Homo sapiens: one gene and its partner. The protein of the gene in region 2 interacts with the protein of the main gene of each other region in a pairwise test. Each region holds a gene or a part of one and is shown on either strand. Other genes may lie near its edges.

What was found. Proteins that work in one complex are often made in the same cells at the same time.
Region 1: the proteins of DHX15 (region 2) and FXR1 interact in binary tests that used the Homo sapiens proteins (3 or more experiments, as listed by UniProt).

Annotation. Positions count from the first base shown.
Region 1 is NC_000003.12:180,915,646-180,919,398, reverse strand, and holds part of FXR1 (RNA-binding protein FXR1), read right to left. Parts: intron 1-3,753. UniProt on the Homo sapiens protein: mRNA-binding protein that acts as a regulator of mRNAs translation and/or stability, and which is required for various processes, such as neurogenesis, muscle development and spermatogenesis.
Region 2 is NC_000004.12:24,542,834-24,546,586, forward strand, and holds part of DHX15 (ATP-dependent RNA helicase DHX15), read right to left. Parts: intron 194-3,753; coding exon 107-193; intron 1-106.

The sequences.
Region 1 (3,753 bases), on a different chromosome or scaffold from region 2:
GCATGAGAATCACGTGAACCCAGGAGGCGGAAGTTGCAATGACCCGAGATAGTGCCACTGCACTCCAGCCTGGGCAACAGAGCAAGACTCTGGCTCAAAAAAAAAAAAAACAAAAATAAAAAAAAAATAAAATTTAGGTGTTTCACATTTTTTTTTAATTCTAAGGCTTTGAAACCCAATTTGTATTTTACATTTAAAGCATGTCTCAATTCAGACTAGTACATTTCAGCTCCATGGCTGGTGGCTACTATATTAGAAAGCAGATTTGTCTAAAGCAAAGGCATAGCTCAAATCATTTCTCTGGGAACCTCCCAATTTATTCCTCATAATTCTCCTCATATTAGTAACAATTCAAAATTAGTAATAATGTGGCAAAACATTTGTACTTCAAAAAATATTGCACCATAATGGTTAAAGAAATTGGTTCTGTGGTGTCAAACTTTAGAGTCTGAATCTTGAATCAGCATCTAACTTTACAGACCTGGATTCACTTAGCCTCAGTATTCTCAAATAGTGGAGTTATCTACTTCACTGTGGTTGAAAGGATTAAATGGGAAATTCGAGTAAGGCACCTACAAAGTCTGGTAAGTAGTCTGGGTACTCAATGAAAATTAGTTACAGTTGCTAGAGGTAGATGGGACTGCCATCAACAGAAACTAGCAAAGATTTCACAACTTATAAATAGGTTAAAGGAAATACAACTGCTTCATACTGCATATGAAAAAACCAAGGTGTTTACCTGGATGATCCTGCCAGTTAAAAACTATTACAAGAATTAGGGGTCAATCATGGAATGAATGCATATTGCTCTTCCCACTACAAAAAAGCTAATTTGACAACCTTAAACACTGTGATAGAGAACTTATCCAGAGTGATAATCCAGCAAAGTATCTGCCCTTTTCCTCCTAATGAAAATGTAAGCTCACTATCCTAAAAGTTACTTTGAAAAATCCCTAATGCTGGCCAGACTCAGTGGTTCATGCCTGTAATCCCAGCACTCTGGGAGGCCCAGATGGGAGTATTGCTTGAGACCAGGAGTTTGAGACCAGCCTGATCTAAATAGCAAGACCCCATCTCTACTAAAAAATAAAAATTAAAAAAATAAAACCAACCTCACAGAGTTCTTGGGAAAAGAAAATCAGGAAATACATATAGAAGCTTAATACATAATCTAGTAAAGAACAGGCTCTCATCTTAAACTATTATCTTACAGAAGGCACACAAATATCTGACATAGAAAATAACAGGTACATAAAAGTAAAAATACGGAAAAATAATGTTTTCTGGAAGTATTTAAAGCCAGGGCCTTGACAGTATCTCTCTAGATAGGTAAGATGTGCTTTTCTGCTTTCATATTTTTCGTAATTATGTGTTGCTCTTCTAATACAAAACACAAAACTTTACAAGAAATATATGCATTTAAATTGACTTTTTTTTTTTTTTTTTTTTTTGGAGACAGAGTCTCACTCTGTCACCCAGGCTGGAGTGCAATGGCATGATCTCGGCTCACTGCAACCTCTGCCTCCCCGGTTCAAGCGATTCTCCCACCTCAGCTTCCCAAGTAGCTGGGACTACAGGCGCGTGCCACCACACCTGGCTAATTTTTGTATTTTTAGTAGAGACGGGGTTTCTCTATGTTGGCCAGGCTGGTCTCGAACTCCTGACCTCGTGATCCACGCACCTCAGCCCCACAAAGTGCTGGGATTACAGGCATGAGCCACGGCGCCCGGCCTAAGTTGACTTTTTAATAACTGTGATCACCATCAGCAAGATAGAGTAGAAAATCCCAGCCTTCCTTCCCCTCCACGTTTTGCAACTATCTGTGAATGAAAATAAAAGCTGTTGTGATCATTTATTTTGACATCCAGTTAAATCTTCATTACTTAGCATTTTAATGAAAATTATCTTTTTAAATATGCAAAACAACCATTTTAAATTATCTGGAACTATGTATTTTTAAATTAACAGGGTGGCCTAATATTAAGACAATTATCGTTTTTTCAATTACAAATCTCCACAATGAAACCAACTAACAAGATTCTGTACTAACCTTGAAAAGTCAGCATACCCTCTGAACGCAACTTTTTACTATAATTCTATTGGTCATCATTATTAATATATCTATGCATAATTTAGATTACGCTCAAATTCCACTTAATATTAAATCAAGCTAAACAGGGAATTATAGAAATATAGTACTTTGAGATTTGTTTTGTAGACAGTTACACGGTGGAAGCAGACAGCTCTAAAAGTAATTAACTCTGGCCAGGCGCGGTGGCTCACGCCTGTATTCCCAGCACCTTGGGACGCCGAGGCGGACAGATGGAGGCCATCCTGGAGATCGAGAACATCCTGGCCAACATGGTGAAACTCCGTCTCTACTAAAAATACAAAAAATTAGCTGGGCGTGGTGGTGCGTCCCTGAAATACCAGCTACTCAGGAGGCTGAGGCAGGAGAATCGCTTGAACCACTGAGTCAGAGGTTGCAGCCAGCCAAGATTGCACCACTGCACTCCAGCCTGGTGACAGAGCAAGACTCCGTCTCAAGAAAACAAAAAAATGTAACTCTACCTTCTGCAGAAAGTGACTGAAATCTCAGAGCTTACAGGTTCCCTTCGAACATCATGGAAACTTTCCTATGAGCCAGAAACTGAGTGACTTACTTCCAACTTCTATTTAAAATTATACTCATGGTCGGGCGTGGTGGCTCACACCTGTAATCCCAGCACTTTGGGAGGCCGAGGAGGGCGATCATTTGACGTCAGGAGTTCGAGGCCAGCCTGGCCTACACAGTAAAACCCCGTCTCTACTAAAAATACAAAAATTAGCCGGCCATGTTAGCACATGCCTGTTGTCCCAGCTACCTGGGAGGCTGAGGCAGGAGAATCACTTGAACCTGGGAGGTGGAGGTTGCAGTGAGCCGAGATCGCACCACTGCGCTCCCACCACTGTGCTCCCACCCGGGCAAAAGAGCAAGATTCTGTCTCAAAAAATAAAAATAAAATGAAATTATACTCAGCCCAAGGCCATACAAATTGCAATGCTATTACAAAGACTAATATATATTTATACATCAGTTAAAAAGCACTTTAATGATGCAAATGAGCCGGAGGTTTCTGTGGGGTAATGGAACGTTCTGAAGGAAGACTGTGGCGGTGGTTACACAACTCTGTAAATACACTGTCATTCAACTGTACACTTAAAAAAGGTTGTTTTATAGAATATACATTCTACCTCATTAAAACTTTCTTTTTCAAGACACCTTAAATGTCCAGTAGTATAAAACCTAAGATGCTACTTTAGGTATGAGAAGTACAAAAGTACAAAGCCTATAATGTTATTTTATATAACAGCATAGCCCACCAACAAATGCTTAATTAACATCTTCCCATTCTCTCTCATCCCCGCAGATTTATAGGGCTACGAACATGCACAAATCAAGTTTCTAATATCTCTAACTATAGAGCCACTGTTAAATGCAGAACAATGTATTTAGCATGCCACCATTTGTGTACATACTATTTTTTAAAGGCTACCCTAATTTTAGGTAAAATATTCAGATCTTCAGCGTTTCACTGGTTCCAATTAATTTGTGAAATGAAGTTTCAGTTCTACTACAAAAACTTTAATCAAAGTCTACAGAGTACTGCCTCAAGGCATGATAACTGACTTTGAAACTCATCAATGGCAATTCACACTTACGGCCAAATGTGTGTCTTCTGCCTATACGGGGTAAGAGGAGGGGAAAAAAGG
Region 2 (3,753 bases):
AAAGATAGGAAAATAATTCTGAAAGGTAAATTTTAGCCATTAAATGAATTGGTTGTAAGTACTGTTAAACCAACTCTAATTTATAAAGTATCCACTAAATATGTACCTTCTGTTTCGCAAATCCAGGATCAATCACAAACACCACACCATCTATTGTCAAAGACGTCTCTGCTATGTTAGTTGACACAACTACCTGTTAAGAAATAGAGTATATAAATTATATTACATATCAAATAAAATTAACAGGACTGTTAAAGATCAGCCACTAACTTTCACTGACACAAGGAATTTCAAGCCAGCAAATAAACTAGAAATATCATTTGATCTTCAATGGCCAATGCTTTAAAAAGGTAAATTAATATTTAAGGAACCAAAATTTTGTTTACACCACAACAGCAACTTCTTTCTCAACAAAGCTATTACTTCAGGTTATCACTCAACCGCATTACATTTTGCTTAATCAAATTAATGGACAGCATAAAAAGAAAAATACTGATGAAGCAATATAACGTGCCTTACAAAACGTCTGATAAAACAGCCCTTATAATTAGTATTCAAATTTCCACAAGTGTATATTTCAATGTTTTTGGGCAATATTTACAAATGAAAACTTCGTTATTTATATCACCAAAATTCAACTCAACATTTTAAACAAAATGCCACATGGAAAAAAACTCAAGTTATAATCCAGTAAGAATGGACAGATCAGCAGAATCAAATGTAAATATTTCGGTAAGTGCATGGTCTCAACGGGATGACATGTAATACGTTACTACATACAAAGCAACTGTTAAGAACTATAATTCTTTATTGACGGAAAATGTTTAAAGCATTTACATACTAATATGATAGCTTGTTTGGTATACGTGCATGTTTTACTATATATTACATATGTTTTAGAAAATTAGTTAAGGACTTGGGAAATACATGTTACATATAATTTTTTTTTAAACAATGGGAAATGGGGATTCCTCATTAGTATTTTAACTCAGGACATGATTTTCAGGAACAGGTTACTGATATTAAGTTGAAGATGTCTGTATATGCAAGCAATTGATACAGAAGATGAATCAAACAGAGTCTGCTTTTACCATTTGTAAGGGATGATTAGACATGGATAGAAAGTGTGAGTGGCACCAAAGACACACTGTGAAATTTAAAAAGGTTTACTTCCATAGCAAAGTCAAGAAAAGCTTTACTGAAAAATAATAGCATTTAGGACAGTCCTTGACGGTAAGGTTAAGACCTACTCATGAGAGAAGGAAACAGCACTAGCACTAAAGTTCCATCTTAAAAAAACACATGTGGGAGAAATGCCTATGGGCACATACAAAAAATGAAAAGATTTATATTTATCCCTATTTTATTTTAAAAACACTTAATTTTATAAATCAAATAGCTTTAAAAATCATAGGCTTTTGCTGCATTAACTATTTTACTTAATATTAACACTTTCATTTTCTGATTTCATATTTACTAAGTAGTAGACTTCCCAAAATACTAACAGGAAACCTCAGGGATTTAAAAACATAATAGCAATCTACCAAGAGGGTATTTCAGAATAATTTACAAGTCAAAAACCAAAATGTTTCCTTTTGTCAGTTGAAAAGACTGACAACTAGCAAAGGAATAAGAAACCACATGTGGTTTGATGATGTTGCTGAAATACATTCTTCAGGACATTTAGAAAAATAATCAGCAACTAGAACTGAAGCAAACAACGACATACATAAGGTTAACAGGTGAAACTTGAATAAGCATAACCGGCATTTAATATTCTAGAAAGTCAGTTTCTTGTAGTTAAAGAAGCGATGAATTTAGAGGTAACTGGCAGACCTAGCAATCAAACCTGAGTGGCTAAAGTAACTGGAAAGGTTTTAACACCCCCAAGCTTGTATTCCTTTTATAACTTGCATATTACTTAGTCTACATAACACAGGGTTGTAGGGAATAAATTATGTAAGGATGTGGAAATGCTCTATAAACTATACAGAATAGGCCAGGCATGGTGGCTCACATCCGTAATCCCAGCACTTAAAAAGGCCAAGGAGGATTATTTGAGTCCAGGAGTTTGAGACAAGCCTGGACAACATAGTAAAACCCCACCTCTACAAAAAAATAAAAGAAATTAGCCAGGCATGGTGGCACATGCTTGTAGTCCCAGCTACCGAGGAGGCTAAGGTGGGAGGACTGCTTGAGTCCAGGAGGTTCAGGTTGCAGTGAGCTATGATCATGGCACAGAACTCCACCCTAGGCAACAGACTGAGACCCTATCTCAAATCTATACAGAACCAACTACATGCCTGTAAATACAGAAGACGTCTTCTGGCTTTCTGGAATTCTGGGGTGAAAACCATAGTTCTGAAAATATTTATGAAGAAAATCACTTTTAAAAAAGTTGTTCTGGGAAAAAATACATTTCACATATTTCTTCTATAACATAATACAATGTGATAAAAATTTCTCATGTGACCAACTCTTTAGTTACCATTATAAAAAGTTAATTTTTCTCCACAAAATAATTTCATCCTGTGTGTATGTTTTTTGTCTGGGTGAGTGTATTAAATTCTGTAATACTTAACAATTCGCGGATACATGATTCTGCAAGTGTTTAAGAATCAAATGATTTATGCCAACTTGGCAAACCCTCGTCATTATTGATATTAGTAAGAGCCTATTGCCAGCCAAAAGTCAAACCCTAAAATACAAGTGTTAAATTGAGTCCTTAACAAAAAAGCACAAGTTTTAGGCCTTTCTCAAGGACTAAAAATAGCTAAGGCTAAATACACACACACACAATGCAAAAGCGAACTAATAAATGACAAGATAAAAGCTTCTTTGGTACTTCAGCAGTTGAGTGAGGCAAGCCCTAACCATGTTCTAATTGTAAATGGCACACCATACAACCAGGAACCCATCAGGAGACAAAATGACCTTGAATTTGTCAAGGGATTTACATTATGACCAGTAAGAATCAATATAATTGTTACATGCTTTCTAGACTGCAACACTGCAGTAAGCGTTCAAAGAGCCTTAAAAAGTGTTCAAACCGCATTGACTAATATGGAACAGACCCTATGGTGAAAAGCTTGGCATCACTGTCAGGACATGCTAAGAGTAAATTTTCCTCCCTCAATAACCTGCCTTCTAATAGAACTCACTTTTTTTCTAATAGAACCACTTCCCCCCACTCCGCCCCCAATAACTCCACTTCAAAGTAGAACTCGCAGTACTTCATTTGCCCTACCTGAATACTGTCTGGACACAATAATGCATTTAAACTAATTTGGACTTTTAGTCCCCAGGGAACTCTGTGGTGGTCTCCAACACAAGGACATCAACTTATTTGCTTATAAACATCCCAGCAGCACCACAGTAAGCTATCTTCAGATCCTGGATCATTAAGTCTTTCTTTAAAACTACAGGACCATCTCCACAAGGGCCATTTCTCTTTTTCACTGAGCAATGTATGCTCTGAACCATATTAATCAGCGAAATGTAGGATCAACTATAGAAAAGTCAGCTATTTGTATGAACAAAATTAATGAACACTAAATATTTAAAAAATAATTATAGTTGTATTTTAATAACAACCAAATCCACAAAATAGCAATTTTAAGTCTCAGTCAAAAAATGCAGAAGTTATCTACTGAAGAGTAAACTTGAATGCATGTAAAGAATTACTGTAACTTTTAACTTAGTCAAATACTTGAATAAACTTCAAAAATTATCAAGAGGTAAAAATATTTACCC